Linked DNA regions of Homo sapiens: region 2 is linked to region 1. Evidence: fine-mapped expression QTL. A gene starts in region 1. The other region holds a variant in brackets. All regions are shown on one strand. Distances are from middle to middle.

Region 1 (8,262 bases):
CAATCTCGGCTCACGGCAAGCTCCGCCTCCCGGATTCACGCCATTCTCCTGCCTCAGCCTCCCGAATAGCTGGGACTACAGGCGCCCGCCACCACGCCCAGCTAATTTTTTGTATTTTTAGTAGAGACGGGGTTTCACTGTGTTAGCCAGGATGGTCTCGATCTCCTGACCTTGTGATCCGCCCGTCTCAGCCTCCCAAAGTGCTGGGATTACAGGTGTGAGCCACCGCGCCTGGACTTTTTTTTTTTTTTTAAGACGGGGTCTCACTCTGTCACCCAGGCTGGAGTGCAGTGGCGCGATGTCGGCTCACTGCAACCTCTGCCTCCCCAGTTCAAGTGATTCTCCTGCCTCAGCCTCCCAAGTAGCTAGAATTACAGGCACATGCCACCATGCCCAGCTAATTTTCTGTATTTTTAGTAGAGATGAGGTTTCACCATGTTGGCCAGGCTGGTCTTGAACTCCTGACCTCCGGTGATCTGCCCACCTCAGCCTCCCAAAGTGCTGGGATGACAGGCGTGAGCCCCCGCGCCTGGCCCCCCGCAGTGCTGGGATTACAGGCGTGAGCCCCCGCGCCCGGCCCCTCCCTCTCTTTGACTCCCTTCTTTCTCACCGCCCCCTCCCCACCATCCTTCCCCTTCACTGACTTCAGGGAGTTAAAAACAATTCTCGCAGTGAGCTGGGCTTGTTTTGTCTCCCTGCTTCTCTTTGTACTAAACATTAGATACCGAGGAAATGCGGATTGGCCTTTGGATGATTCATGAGCAGGAGTCAGAAAAAGGCACCAGGTTGGCCTCAAGCAGCAGGGTATAGTAGTGCCCGCTCCCAGGGTCACACCTCACGCCCACCCCTCCCGCCGTCCAGGTGGATGGTGCCCACTCCCAGGGTCACACCTCACGCCCACCCCTCCCGCCGTCCAGGTGGATGGTGCCCACTCCCAGGGTCACACCTCACGCCCACCCCTCCCGTCGCCCAGGTGGATGGTGCCCACTCCCAGGGTCACACCTCACGCCCGCCCCTCCCACCCACCCGGGTGGATGGTGCCCGCTCCCAGGGTCACACCTGACGCCCACCCGGGTGGATGGTGCCCGCTCCCAGGGTCACACCTCACGCCCACCCCTCCCGCCCGCCCGGGTGGATGGTGCCCGCTCCCAGGGTCACACCTCACGCCCACCCCTCCCGCCGTCCAGGTGGATGGTGCCCACTCCCAGGGTCACACCTCACGCCCACCCCTCCCGCCGCCCAGGTGGATGGTGCCCACTCCCAGGGTCACACCTCACACCCACCCCTCCCGCCCACCCGGGTGGATGCCCTTATCAGCTCTCCTTCTCCTTCTCTTTCGTCTTCTTCGTCTTCCTCCTCTTCTTTCTTCTTTTTTTTTTTTTTTAGAAAGAGTTTCTACTCTTGCTGCCCAGGCTGGAGTGCAATGGCACAATCTCAGCTCACTGCAACCTCCCTCTCCCCGGGTCAAGCAATTATCCTGCCTCAGTCTCCCAGATTGCTGGGATCACAGGAGTGTGTCACCACACCTGGCTAATTTTGTACTTTTAGCAGAGAGGGGGGATTTCACCATGTTGGCCAGGCTAGTCTCGAACTCTTGACCTCAGTTTATCCACCGGCCTCAGCCTCTCAAAGTGCTGGGATTACAGGCATGAGCCACCCTATCTGCCTCACTTCTACAGAGGAGGAATGAAGGCTCAGAGAGGGCAAGCATTCCACCCAGCATCACACAGAGTGCCGGGTGAGAGCCCAGTCATGAGCCTGGGCCTGACTGCAGGCTCCTGTTGGGAGCTCGCGGAGGTGGGGGATCTGTCCAGAACTGAGAGGCCAGGGGACCACAGTGGCCTCTGACCCCTGGAGGGCCCTGGAGGCTGCTGCCGGCTCCCCCCGGGGGCAGATGGAGGTCACTGTCACCCAGGCTGCTTCTCATGGTGCCAGGAGCACAGCATGGCAGGAGCCACCAGCCGATTTGCCTTTCCCTGGGCAGGAAACTCAGAAATGTGGCTACCACAGTCAGGCTGCTTGACGTGCGGTGAGCACTCATCTCTTAGCAGGCAAGCGGCCAAGCACCTTTCCTGAAATATTGAGGCCTCAGAACAAGCCCCAGGAGAGGTGCCAGCACCGTCATCTCTACCCAGATAAGGAGACCCAGGTCCTGAGAGGTTAGGCAGCTCGGACAACACCACACAGCTGGAGGAGGTCAGACTCTGGGTTGCAGAAGGAGAATGTGAGCAGAGGCCACAAAAGAGCGAGGAGCCAGTGCCCAGATGCCGAGATGCCCTCGCCCTCCCAGCTCAGCCCCAGGAACCGAGCCCATGGGGAGGGACCGTCAGGGAAAGGCTGTCAGGAAGGGCAGGAGGCGGCCCTGGAGAGGACGGCGCTGCCCTCAGGGGCAGGAGGGGAGTCCCCTCCGCTGAGAGCCCCCCCACCCCCAGTATCCCCGGGGGTGTCCAGGAGGAGGCGGAGGGAGGAAGCGCAGATGGACAGGACTCCCAGATAGGGTGGGGAGGTGTGGCCGGTGACACACACGGTCCCCTCCTGGCAGGTGCTGAAGTCACCTGGAGCCTCCAAGCCCGTGGGGCCTGAGGGGCGGGGTCAGGTCGGGCACGCGTGGGTGGGCGGAGTTCTGCGCCCCGGGCCAAGGCGCCCGAGTTGAACCAGTCAGCTCGGGAGAGGGACCGCGGCGACCTGTCCCGGGGGCGTAAGAAAAGGTGGGAGGGAGTGCGGCTCGTGAACGGGGGCGGCGATGGGAAGGAGGTGCGGCCCTTCGTCCTGTCCTCCCAAACGTCGAGTGAAAAACGAAGCGGGTTCTGCGGCCTCGCGGCGGAGCAGAGCGTTTCGGGAAGGGCGGGCCCAGCGTCCTCGCGCCCGAGGTCGCCCGGCAGCTCCCCTGCGTCCAGAATCCGCCCCCCGCCCGGGCCTGCGCCCGCCCCTCCGCCTGAGCTCCGCGCGGGACGGGCCGGGAGGCCGGGGTGGGCGCTACCTTCGAAGGCGGTGGGTCCGCCCCGCGGGAGGTGGAGGGGCGGGAGGGGCGGAGCCCTCTGGTCTCCGGAGGGTTTGGGGATCGCAGTCGCCCCTCCCCCATCCAGACCCCGCGGCGCAAAGGGCAGTGGCTTTTCTGGCCAGAGCAGGTGGCGCGGGCGTCGCAAAGGGTGGTCCCCGAGGCCGCAGCGGTGTGGGGGGAGGGCGCGGTCCCCCTCACTCCGGGCTCCGCCGTGTCTGGCCCGCCCCCCTCCTTCAGCGCCCCCTCCAGCCCCTGTGCTGCACTGGCGCGGGGAGCGCCGGGTTCCCGGCTGGGGCTTTGGCAGAGGGTCCCACCCTCTCCCCGCCTCCCCACGAAGGCTCTGGCGGACCCAGATCTCGGGTCGCCGGACGCCCCAGGGACCCCGCCCGCACATCGCGAGCGCGCCCACCCGGTCGCGAGCCCACGCCCGGGTCTGGGAGCCACCCTGCGGCAGTCGCGCCCTGCGTGGCACGCTGCTCCCCCAGGGGCGAGGCGCCCCCGCCCGACGTCCCGGTCCCGAGCGCTCCCCGGCGCGGCGCCTCGCAGCCCAGCGCCCCACCAGCCCCGCCGGCGCCGCAGACCCCAGCCTCGGGCGGGTCGGGCCCAGGCTTGCAACGCGCAGGGTAGGAGAAGGGAAATTGGCGTCCGCTGCCGGCCGCTGCCCCAGGCGAGGCCAGACGAGGCCTCTGCTCAGATCCCGCCGCCCCACAAAGCCCGTGGCCCCGGAGCCTACCGGAAATGGTGCTGGCCATGGTGCTGGCGGCGGTTGGGCCTGCGGAGGCTGGAGAGGCGCAAGTGGCGGCCGGAGCTGCAGACGGCTGGTGCTGCAGTGCCGGGGAGGGGAGGGGAGAGGAGTGGAGGGAGCGAGGGCGGGCGGGAGGCGGGCGCGGCGGGAGAGAGAGAGGGAGGGAGACAGAGGGAGAGAGAGAGAGGGTTGGGGGAAGGAGCGGGGGGAGGAGGGAGGGAGGGTTGGGGGAAGGAGAGAGAGAGAGAGAGAGACTGCGGGGGCGGGGGAAGGAGGGAGGGAGGAAGGGAGGGAGGAAGAGAGAGAGGAGCAAGCGCCTGGCTGCGGAAGGGGCCGCGGCTCTCAGGGGGAGAGGGCGGAGGAGGGGGGCTACCCGAACTGCAACAAGACCCCCCACCCTCCAACCGCTCACAGCGGGACAGCTGCTTCTCCAACTTGGCTTTGTGAGGCCTGAGAGTGGGGTGGGGGTGGAGATGAGCCCCCATTCCCCAGGGCAGGCGGGGCAGGGGCAATGCCGGAGGAGCAGGTCCCACCCATGGGGTGGGGCCGCAGAGCTCTTCGCCGCCAAGGCCGCTGTAGGCTGGGCTGGCGCCAACAGGGTCCAGGTCTGTGCCTGCCATCGGAGAGGATGCCACAGCCACAGGGGTGGGCGCTGGCCTGGAGGCCTCCAAGGGGCATCTCCTGTGAGCCCAGGGGATGGGCAGGATCTGAGCGGAGAAGAGTGAAAGTGGAGGAGTGAGGCCAGAACAAAGGCTTTGCCGTGAAAGAGGTGGTTTCCCGCCTGGGCTCAGACCTTCACTCACTGTGTGGCCCAGGCCAAGGGCAAGCGTCTGACCTCGCTGGGCCTTTGTTTCTCAGGGGTAAGATGAAACAATGATGCCCCCAGACGATGGAGAGGAGGGGTGCCAGGGTTGTGCGCACTTAGTGAGTGGGGGGCAACCTATCCTGCCTCCCCCTCTCCTCATAACTCCCAAAGGGAAAGCCTGGTAGGCAAACGGAGCGTCTTTGCCATTGCAGGGATGAAGCCACCGAGGCAGGGAGAAAAGTGCTTTGCCCTACAAGCAACTAAGTCATAGGGCCAGGAGCAAAACCCTGAAAACCTCAGGAGACTTGCAGAGCCATGAGGCTGGCTCAGCAACACAAAAGCCAGGGGCAAGCCTCAGCTCTAGCAGTGCGGTGGGAGCACCCAAGGCCAGTCACATCCTAGGGTGGCCTGGAGAGTCCTGACCCCTGACGTGCAAGCCGGCATCATCCCCGGGACTGTGAGTCTGGTGGGGGTGATGCCCAGGAATGTGACATTGTGTGGCCCAGAGGTACCCTTAAGACTGGAGGATCACCAGGCGGGCCCTGACCTCATCACAGGAGCCCTTTAAAAGCAGTTTCCTTTGCCTGGTTGAAGAAATCGGAGGGATCAAACCAAAGAAGGTTTTCTGTTGTTGAGATGAGGGGGCCACGTGGCAAGGATCTGAGAACTGCTCCCAGCCAACAGCCAGCAAGACAACAAGACCTTAACTGCAAGGAAGTGAGTTCTGCCAACAAGAAGAGAATGGGCTTGGAGGCAGGTTTGACCCCAGGGCCTCCACACAAGAACTGAGCCCAACTGCCCACTTGGTTTCAGCCTTGGGTTACTAAGAATTAGGAGGTAATGAATGAGAGTTGTTTTAAGCTGTTGGTTTTGTGGTGATTTGCTATGAAGCCATATCAAACTAATATACACACAGAGGTGTTGGCCCCTGGGCCATTCCTAGGAAGCCAGCTCTGCGAAGGAGGAAGAAGGGCAGAGAGGCACACAGAGCTGCCCACCACAGCAGCTGTGTCCTCCCTGTTGGCCACCACAGTAGCAGTTGGGGATGGTCAGCATCCTTCAGGCAGACTCCAGCCCCGGGTGCTGGAGCTCAGGTGCTAGGGATCAAGAGAAGTAGCCCTCTCTGGGACCTCCAGAGTCTTCTCATGTGGGTGGGGTAGGACCCACCCAGTCAGGCTCAGAGCACCGCAATGCCTCACACTCATTGTGACTCTGGCCAGGCCCTCTCTGAGCCTCTGTGTCCTCATCTGGAGCACAGGGACCAGGTGTGTGGAAGCCCGTGGCATAGTGCCAGGAACACAGTAGATGTGCACAGTGTGCACTAGCAGGAACACACAACAGGGGTACTGACTGTCAGCACCTAGGCAGGCACACGCAATGGGGTACTGACTGTCAGCCATACTGACTGTCAGCGTGCTAGCAGGCATACACAACAGCTGTACTGACAGCACACTAGCAGGCACATGCCATAGGTGTACTGACTCTCAGTGCACTGGCAGGCACACGCAATAGGAGTAATGACAGCATGCTGGCAGGCACACAATAGCTGTACTGACTGTTTGCCCCAATATAGTGCCAGGTCTTGGAGCAGATTTTGACTTCTCACCAAGATCAAATGCAGAAAGTGCACGAGCATTTCAAAGATGTTTTTCACATGCACATTAGTGCTAGTTAAAAAAATGTTTTGACTGGGTGCAGTGGCTCACAACTGTAATCCCAACACTTTGGGGGGCCGAGGTGGGCAGATCACCTGAGGTCAGGAGTTTGAGACCAGCCTGGCCAACATGGTGAAACCCCATCTACCCTAAAAATACAAAAATTAGCCAGGTGTGGTGGCAGGTGCCTGTAATCTCAGCTACTTTGGAGGCTGAAGCAGGAGAATCACTTGAATCCAGGAGGCAGAGGTTGCAGTGAGCCGAGATCCCACCACTGCACTCCAGCCTGGGCAACAATATCAAGACTCCACCTCAAAAAAAAAAATGTTTTTCATAAAGTGTGACTTTTATCAGACCTCTGCATTCTTGAAATTAACTCTGGCTTGGCTGGGCGTGGTGGCCCACACCTGTAATCTTAACACTTTGGGAGGCTGAGGTGGGCAGATCACGAGGTCAGGAGTTCAAGACCAGCCTGACCAACATGATGAAACCCCATCTCTACTAAAAATACAAAAATTAGCCGGGCGTGGTGGCATGCACCTGTAATCCCAGCTACTCAGGAGGCTGAGGCAGGAGAATCGCTTGAACCCAGGAGGTGGAGGTTGCAGGGAGCCGAGATCGCACCACTCTATTCCAGCCTGGGCGACAGAGCAAGACTCTGTCTCAAAAAAAAAAAAGAAAGAAAGAAATTAACTCTGGCTCCTAGAAGGAGCCCTATATCTCAGCAGGACACTCAGTCATTCAACAGACATCTGTCAAGCACCTGCTGTATGCTGGAGCTGTGGGTACGTCAGCAATTAGAGGAAGAGGGCAGGGGTACAGGAGTTCCTGACCACCCCAGGCCAGCACGCTCCTATAGCAGCTGGCAAGGAGCAGATGACTCAGACTTCAGCTCAGTCCACAGGACAGCCTTTTCTGGCCACTGCTCTCAGGAGATGAGATGTGTGGCTGCAAAAGGTAAACTCCTGGCTCCTGAGCAGGCTCTGGGCAATCTGCTCAACGCTCTGTGCCTCACTTTCTCACCCAGAAAGTGTGGACAATGAGAGGACTTATCTGGCTGGGCGCGGTGGCTCACGCCTGTAATCCCAGCACTTTGGGAGGCCGAGGCGGGTGGATCACCTGAGGTCAGGAGTTCAAGACCTGCCTGGCCAACACGGTCAAACTCCATCTCTACTAAAAATATAAAAAATTAGCCGGGCTTAGTGGTGCACACCTGTAATCCCAGCTACTTGAGAGGCTGAGGCAGGAGAATCACTTGAACCCAGGAGGTGGAGGTTGCAGTGAGCCAAGATTGTGCCACTGCACTCCAGCCTGGGCAAAAAGCCAAAACTCTGTCTCAAAGAAAAAAGAATCATGGCAGAAGGTGAAGTCTATGTTAGTCCCAGTTCCCAGGTCGTACATGGCGGCAGGAGAAAGAGAGAGAGAAGGGGAAACTGCCACTTTTAAACCATCGGGTCTCCTGAGCACTCACTGTCAGAACAGCCTGGAGGAAACTGACCGCATGATCCAACCACCTCCCTCCAGGTCCCTCCCTCCACACGTGGGGATTACAATTCGAGGTGAGACTTGGGTGGAGACACAGAGCCGAACCATATCAGCATGTATGGGGGGCACTGAAACTTGTGCTTGGTGCCCATTCATTCAACGAGTGTGTGTGGCTGGTCTCCTCATCTTCAACTCCCTGCCGAGTCTCAGATAGGCAGCCTGCAGTTCCTTCACCACAACAGGCACATGGGGCTGGGTGCCAGTGAGTGCTGGGGCTTCTCCGAGCACTATCTCACACCCAGGAGCGTGGGCACGCATGGCATTCGCATGTGCCGTCAGTGGACATTAAACACAGCCATGAAGAAGCCACGAAGAAGTGCTGCCTGCCGGCCGTGCGCGGTCACGCAGCGCCAACTCCCTCCTGGGGCCTTCTGGGGCCTTCTGGGGCATGGGAGCTGGGGCCGCCTGAGACAAACATCCGTGACGCTGGGCTGACCCCACAGAACGGTGCGGGCCTCGCTCTTGGAGTCAGCCCTGCTGCCAGCCAGTGCCGGGTGCTGGGGACTCAGGG
Region 2 (8,317 bases), 42 kb before region 1:
CATTTCTAGAAACATGCCCCTCTGACCCCACATCCATTTCTAGAAACATGCCCCTCTGACCCCACATCCATTTCTAGAAACATGCCCCTCTGACCCACACCTCCATTTCTAGAAACATGCCCCTCTGACCCCACCTCCATTTCTAGAAACATGCCCCTGTGACCTCACCTCCATTTCTAGAAACATGCCCCTCTGACCTCACCTCCATTTCTAGAAACATGCCCCTCTGACCCACACCTCCATTTCTAGAAACATGCCCCTGTGACCTCACCTCCATTTCTAGAAACATGCCCCTCTGACCCCACATCCATTTCTAGAAACATGCCCCTCTGACCCCACATCCATTTCTAGAAACATGCCCCTCTGACCTCACCTCCATTTCTAGAAACATGCCCGTGACCCCACATCCATTTCTAGAAACATGCCCCTCTGACCCCACATCCATTTCTAGAAACATGCCCCTGTGACCTCACCTCCATTTCTAGAAACATGCCCCTCTGACCTCACCTCCATTTCTAGAAACATGCCCCTCTGACCCACACCTCCATTTCTAGAAACATGCCCCTGTGACCTCACCTCCATTTCTAGAAACATGCCCCTCTGACCCCACATCCATTTCTAGAAACATGCCCCTCTGACCCCACATCCATTTCTAGAAACATGCCCCTCTGACCTCACCTCCATTTCTAGAAACATGCCCGTGACCCCACATCCATTTCTAGAAACATGTCCCTCTGACCCCACATCCATTTCTAGAAACATGCCCCTCTGACCCCACCTCCATTTCTAGAAACATGTCCCTCTGACCCCACATCCATTTCTAGAAACATGCCCCTCTGACCCCACCTCCATTTCTAGAAACATGTCCCTCTGACCCCACATCCATTTCTAGAAACATGCCCCTCTGACCTCACCTCCATTTCTAGAAACATGCCCCTGTGACCCCACCTCCATTTCTAGAAACATGTCCCTCTGACCCCACATCCATTTCTAGAAACATGCCCCTCTGACCCCACCTCCATTTCTAGAAACATGTCCCTCTGACCCCACATCCATTTCTAGAAACATGCCCCTCTGACCCCACCTCCATTTCTAGAAACATGCCCCTCTGACCCACACCTCCATTTCTAGAAACATGCCCCTCTGACCCCACATCCATTTCTAGAAACATGCCCCTCTGACCTCACCTCCATTTCTAGAAACATGCCCCTGTGACCCCACCTCCATTTCTAGAAACATGCCCCTCTGACTCACCTCCATTTCTAGAAACATGCCCCTCTGACCCACACCTCCATTTCTAGAAACATGTCCCTCTGACCCACACCTCCATTTCTAGAAACATGCCCCTGACCCCACACCTCCATTTCTAGAAACATGCCCCTCTGACCCACCTCCATTTCCAGAAACATGCCCCTCTGACCCCACACATCCATTTCTAGAAACATGTCCCTCTGACTCACCTCCATTTCTAGAAACATGCCACTCTGACCCCACACATCCATTTCTAGAAACATGCCCCTCTGACCCACCTCCATTTCCAGAAACATGCCCCTCTGACCCCACACATCCATTTCTAGAAACATGTCCCTCTGACTCACCTCCATTTCTAGAAACATGCCACTCTGACCCCACACATCCATTTCTAGAAACATGCCCCTCTGACCTCACCTCCATTTCTAGAAACATGCCCCTCTGACCCCACCTCCATTTCTAGAAACATGCCCCTCTCACCCCACATCCATTTCTAGAAACATGTCCCTCTGACCCCACATCCATTTCTAGAAACATGCCCCTCTGACCCCACCTCCATTTCTAGAAACATGCCCCTCTGACCTCACCTCCATTTCTAGAAACATGCCCCTCTGACCCACCTCCATTTCTAGAAACATGCCCCTCTCACCCCACATCCATTTCTAGAAACATGCCCCTCTGACCCACCTCCATTTCTAGAAACATGCCCCTCTGACCCACCTCCATTTCTAGAAACATGCCCCTCTGACCCACACCTCCATTTCTAGAAACATGTCCCTCTGACCCCACCTCCATTTCTAGAAACATGCCCCTCTGACCCCACCTCCATTTCTAGAAACATGCCCCTCTGACCCACACCTCCATTTCTAGAAACATGCCCCTCTGACCTCACCTCCATTTCTAGAAACATGCCCCTCTGACCCACACATCCATTTCTAGAAACATGCCCCTCTGACCCCACCTCCATTTCTAGAAACATGCCCCTCTGACCCCACCTCCATTTCTAGAAACATGCCCCTCTGACTCCACCTCCATTTCTAGAAATTAATCCTGCAGACATGGTGTTCCCACACTGGCATGAGGGTTGTCTGAAACAGGGAACAAGTCTCCAGTTTCTGGAACCCGTGCGGGCAGCTGCCTCTGGGGAGATGATGTGGAGAAGCTGGGAGAGGTCTGGGTGGGGTTCCCAGCTGTGCACCTCATAACAGCCAACTGTATGATGTGTGCACTTCTAAACTTCCAGAAGTTTGCTTAAAAACACACGCACACCAGCCGGGCACGGTGGCTCACACCTGTAATCCCAGCACTTTGGGAGGCCGAGGCAGGCGGATCACAAGGTCAGGAGATCGAGACCATCCTGGCTAACACGGTGAAACCCCGTCTCTACTAAAAATACAAAAAATTAGCCGGGCGTGGTGGCGGGCGCCTGTAGGCCCAGCTACTCAGGAGGCTGAGGCAAGAGAATGGCGTGAACCCGGGAGGTGGAGGTTACAGTGAGCCGAGATCGCGCCATTGCACTCCAGTCTGGGCGACAGAGTGAGAATCTGTCTCAAAAAAAGAAAACAAAACAAAAAAAACATGTAGCAAGAGGAAGTCTCAATTTCCAGATGGTAGAAGAACAGATTTAATTCCCCACAAAAAAGAAGAGGATCTTTAAGTCCTTCAAGACAGCCCTGCCTCAGCTGCCACGTGGGGTTCTCTTCTCAGAGAAGAAGGCGCATGCAGACTCTCCACTGCTCCATAAGCCACTGTCCCGCGAGGGCAGAGCCTTGGCGTCCTGGCAAAGCAACTGCAGACTGAAAAATGCCCTCTGGTCCTTCATGGCTCCCTCCATCAAGACAGGGGGCTATTTCCCACCCCCTCCACTTGACTTTGGGCCAAGCTTTGAAGAGCTTTGACCAAGAGGCTGTGACGAGGCCCTACGAGGACTCTGGCTCTCCTCCTGCTAAGCACACCCAGGCAGGTGTCCTGGCAGATGAGGACCACATGCAGAGCCTCGGCCAGCCCACCAATGCCCGGATATGCAAGTGAGCCCAGCCTGGACCCCCCGGCGAGGCCCAGCAGCACCAGCCCAGGCCCGAAAACCTTAAGAAATGACCAGTGTCTGCTGCTTTAAGCCACCAAGCTCTGCGGTGGTTTGTTAGGCTGCAAGCATGGCTAATTCAGAAACTGCCAGAAACAAGCACTGCTGTCCCCAGCCTGGGACACACAGCACCGCCTCTGCGTGGGGAGAGGGCACAGGCTAAGGGCACAAATGCCATCCCAGACCCGGCTCTTGTGTGTGGAAGGGGCCACTGTGCCATGAGGCAGAGGAAACCTTGGCAGGACCTTATGCCACAGCAATTTAAAAGAGAAGAAACAGGCTGGGCGTGGTGGCTCATGCCTATAATCCCAGCACTTTGGGAGGCCAAGGTGGTGGATCACTTGAGGTCAGGAGTTCAAGACCAGCCTGGCCAATATGGTGAAACCCTGTCTCTACGAAAAATACAAAATTTAGGCAGGCGTGGTGGCGGGTGCCTGTAATCCCTGCTATTCAGGAGGCTGAGGCAAGAGATTTACTTGAACCCGGGAGGTGGAGGCTGCTGCAGTGAGCTGAGATCATGCCACTGCACTCCAGCCTGTGTGACGGAGTGAGACTTGGTCTCAAAAAAAAAAAAGGAAACACATCTGACTAGTGTGATCTCGCAAGGAACATTCCAGACACAGTGGAGCTAGAAGGTTCTTCTCCAAACAAGGAATCCCCAGGGGATCAAATTGTTTTGCATCGGCCAGACATGGTGGCTCAAGCCTGTAACCCCAGTGCTTCGGGAGGCTGAGGTGGGAGGACTGCTTGAGTCCAGGAGTTCAAGACTAGCTTGGGCAACACAGTGAGAGCCCATTAGCCAGGCGTGGTGGCACATGCCTGCAGTCCCAGCACTGTACTAAAAATCTACACGGGGCCGGGCATGGTGGCACATGCCTGTAGAGTCCCAGCTACTCAGGAGGCTGAGGCAGGACGATTCCTTGAACCCAGGAGGTCACGGCTGCCATGAGCCGTGACTGTGCCACTGCACTCCAGTCTGTGCAACAGAACGAGACTCTGTTTCGAAAAACAAAAAATCATTTCATGTCTCCAGTTTCTCCACTGGCAAAAGACTCTGTCAAGGTAAAAAATGGTTCTGACCCACAGAAATCTAAGAAAGGAAAAAATATAAAAAATAGAAAATTTAAAAAAGAGATGGTCTCAGAATAAAGACCAACCTGGGCTATGGTTGTCACTCTTCCCTCACACCTTAGAAAGCTTTCTGGCCGCATCTGGCCAAAGGGCCACCCTGCCCCATCTTGGATCAGTGAGGTGCCTTCGAACAAGCCACCTGCCCTGGAGCCCGTCCTGTCTTGTCTGCCACCGCACGCTCAGTAGGGGAGGGGAAGTCGCTAGGTTTTAGTTCACCAGTCTCTGGATCAAGACGTGCCATAACCAAGAAGCCCCAGCCACACCCAGACCCGA[C/T]GTGGCCACAAGGGGTGAGCTGGGAAGGCCCAGGAAAAGGCGGGAGGCGGACGAATGGAAATGTCATTCTGTGGCCACAGAAATGATCTCAACGTTTTGTAACTTCCTACCAAGAGGCAGTCTTAGCTCTGCCCTTGAACCAGCACTTGGTGATGTCGCTTGCGTCAATCAAGGCAACAGAAGTGAGCAGGAGGCCCACTTTCCTCTGCAACTGTGGGCTTACGGGGCAAAGAAGTCCAGGCCTCCAGGTGGAGGATCACAGACCGGGCAAAGCAGAGGAGAGCCACCCAGCCGAGCCTACCTGTGCCTCAGACTGCCTCCCTCCAGAGACCCCTGTGGCCAAGGCCACCCAGACCAGCAGGTCCTTGCCAAGCTGTCAGCTGACGACAGGGGTTGGTGAGGCCGGCCCAGACCAGCAGAACCACGAACCAACCAACAGAATTAAAAATAATAACAACTATGTCTTGTCTTAAGCCACTAAGTTTTGGATGGTTTCTTTCTTTCTTTTTCTTTTTTTTTTTCGGAGACGCAGTCTCACTCTGTTGCCCAGGCTGGAGTGCAGTGGCGCAATCTTGGCTCACTGCAAGCTCTGCCCCCCGGATTCACGCCATTCCCCTGCCTCAGCCTCCTGAGTAACTGGGACTACAGGTGCCTGCCATTGGGTGTTTTCTTAAACAGCAAAAGAAAACTGACACAATCATAAACAGAGCAAGCAAGAGAACTTGGCAATTATTTCCTCTCTACTTCTCACTGTTCTTCAAAGAGTTAACTCAAGCATAAGATGTGAGCAAATTCTTTTAACATCCTAGAAAAAAAGCTCCTACTCAGTGTTCATAAAGCAAAGCTAACCTACAGGAGCCACCTTCCACAGTGACCACAGGAAACCAAGACAGCAAGTGGGACACCAGCCTCCAGGGCACTGCGCCAGCCGTGCGCCTGTGTCTGCCACTGCCCTGGTCCGTCACTGCCACCAGCCGGCAAGACACCCACAGAGGAGAGCTCTAAGCCACAACTGTGTACGAAGACAACTGTGCAGGATTTTATTACTACAACATTTTTGTTTTCTTTTTTTTTTTTTTTTGAGACTGAGTCTCGCTCTGTCACCCAGGCTGGAGTGCAGTGGCACAATCTCGGCTCACTGTAACCTCCATCTCCCTGGTTCAAGCAATTCTCCTGCTGCAGCCTCCCAACTGGATTACAGGCGCCCGCCACCACGCCTGGCTAATTTTTGTACTTTTAGTAGAGACGGGGTTTCACCATGTTGGCCAGACTGGTCTCAAATTCCTGACAAGTGATCCACCCACCCTGGCCTCCCAAAGTGCTGGGATTACAGGTGTGAGCCACTGCGCCTGGCCCATTTTTGTTTATCAATAAAAATGTACTTAATGTTGAACTCTCCACATTTCAAATGGGTAACTCCAGTGTCCTTGATGCTCCTGCGACATGTTCGTGAGACTTCTCTTGGGTGTGAGAGTCTAGCATGTGGGTGGTCTGGACAGGAGGGGGAGGGAAGAGTGCAGAGCAGGGCAGGGTAAAGAGACCCCCTAGGATGTGAAGGCCGCCCTGCATTTGTCAGACTGGGCAACACCCACTCCATCAGATGGACCCTGGTATGGGCGGCAAGCCACCTAGGTGCCGAGGCAAGAGACCGAGGGCACGAGCTGTTCCGGTGTAATAAAATGCATAAAATAAGAATAGTTATACTAGATATAGATCATAAATATGATTATATATGAATATCATTCATCATTAGTTTGTAGCAATTACTCTTTATTCCAATATTATAATAATCCTTGCCTAAGCATAACCTAGGAAAAACTAGGAAATCATAACCTAGGAAAAACTAGGCCATACAGAGATAGGAGCTGAGGGGACATAGTGAGAACTGACCAGAAGACAAGAGTGCGAGCCTTCTGTTATGCCTGGACAGGGCCACCAGAGGGCTCCTTGGTCTAGCGGTAACGCCAGCATCTGGGAAGACGCCCGTTGCCAAGTGGACCGTGGTCTAGCGGTAGCCTCAGTGTCAAGGAAAAACACCCGCTACTTAGCAAACCAGGAAAGAGAGTCTCCCTTTCCCCGGGGGAGTTTAGAGAAGACTCTACTCCTCCACCTCTTGCGGAGGGCCTGACATCAGTCAGGCCCGCCCGCAGTTATCCGGAGGCCTAACCGTCTCCCTGTGATGCTGTGCTTCAGTGGTCACGCTCCTAGTCCGCCTTCATGTTCCATCCTGTGCACCTGGCTCTGCCTTCTAGATAGCAGCAGCAAATTAGTGAAAGTACTGAAAGTCTCTGATAAGCAGAAATAATGGCGTAAGCGGTCTCTCTCTCTCTCTCCTCTCTCTCTGCCTCAGCTGCCAGGAAGGGAAGGGCCCCCTGGCCAGTGGGCACGTGACCCACATGACCTTACCTATCACTGGACATGGTTCACACTCCTTACCCTGCCGCTTTGTCTTGTATCCAATAAATAGCGCAACCTGGCATTCGGGGCCGCTACCAGTCTCCGCGTCTTGGTGGTAGTGGTCCCCCAGGCCCAGCTGTCTTTTTCTTTTATCTTTGTCTTGTGTCTTTATTTCTACACTCTCTCATCTCCGCATACGAGGAGAAAACCCACCAACCCTGTGGGGCTGGTCCCTACACCCTGGCTTTGTAGACTGGAGCCTAGGCACGACTCAGCTGCTGTAGTGAATTGCGATCCTCCAAACCCAGCAAGGCACCTGCAGGACATCTGGCCCAGTCTCCTCGTTGAGCCAGTTCACGAAAAAGAGACTTTTCTGAGTGACATGCTAATGGGCAATATGAGGACTAAATGGGATGGTCTCCAACTTGGACAAACCAACAGTAAAAGCCACTTTGCGGGGAAAGAAACTTTTCCTTTTTTCTTTTTTTTGAGACAGGATCTCACCCTGTCACCCAGGCTGCAGTGCAGTGGCATGACCTTGGCTCACTGCAGCCTCAACCTCTCTCAGGCTCAAGCAATCCTCCCGCCTCAACCTCCCATGCAGCTGGGACCATAGGTGCATGCCACCACACCCAAATAATTTTTATATTTTTTGTAGAGACGAGGTTTCACTATGTTGCTCGGGCTGGTCTCAACTCCTGGGCTCAAGCAACCCTCCCACCTCAGCCTCCCAAAGTGCTCAGATTACAGGCAGGAGCCACCAGGCCTGGCCAACATAGGAAGAAATTTAAATTTGAATTGAATATTAGAAGAGATGAAAATTCATCAACATGGAAAGACAAAGATCATTAACTAAAGCCAAACCAGAATGGAAGCTGTGTGTACAGTGGGGTCTCATGCTGGGAACGCGAGGGGCACGTGCAGGGCTCCACGGTGTGGCGACGCCCCATGCTCCCTTTGTGGGGGTTCATCCAGCGGAACATGAGGACCTGGGGTGCTTTTCAACATGTACGTGAGTTTAATAATAAAAAGGTTTAAGGAAAGAAAAATTCATATGTTTCGATATAAACAGAACATCTGGAAAGATCTATTCTAAGGTGTTGACAGTAGGAATCTCTAGGTAGTAGTAATATGGCCTTTTTGAATTTTTGCTTATCAGTATTTTCTAATTTTCTTTTTCTT

The links. PIP is the estimated chance that this variant, and not a neighbour inherited with it, causes the effect.
Region 2: its variant is fine-mapped to the expression of STMN3 in blood mononuclear cells (TOPMed, PIP 0.93).

The regions. Positions count from the first base shown.
Region 1 is chr20:63,649,593-63,657,854 of GRCh38, forward strand. STMN3 (stathmin 3) reads right to left here and starts at 3,832. Exons shown (of 5, transcript NM_015894.4): 1 at 3,735-3,832. The coding sequence starts at 3,753. RTEL1-TNFRSF6B (RTEL1-TNFRSF6B readthrough (NMD candidate)) reads left to right here and starts at 8,218. Exons shown (of 38, transcript NR_037882.1): 1 at 8,218-8,262. It also overlaps a transcript of RTEL1 not described here. RefSeq lists enhancers at 1,965-2,535, 3,812-4,491, 4,492-5,170 and silencers at 3,510-3,599, 3,620-3,669.
Region 2 is chr20:63,607,719-63,616,035 of GRCh38, forward strand. All of the region lies in intron 2 of GMEB2 (glucocorticoid modulatory element binding protein 2), which reads right to left. Among named protein-coding and RNA genes, the nearest start is that of GMEB2, 15 kb to the right of the region's middle. RefSeq lists enhancers at 2,775-2,944, 6,241-6,410. The variant C/T (reference allele first, on the strand shown) is at 4,739.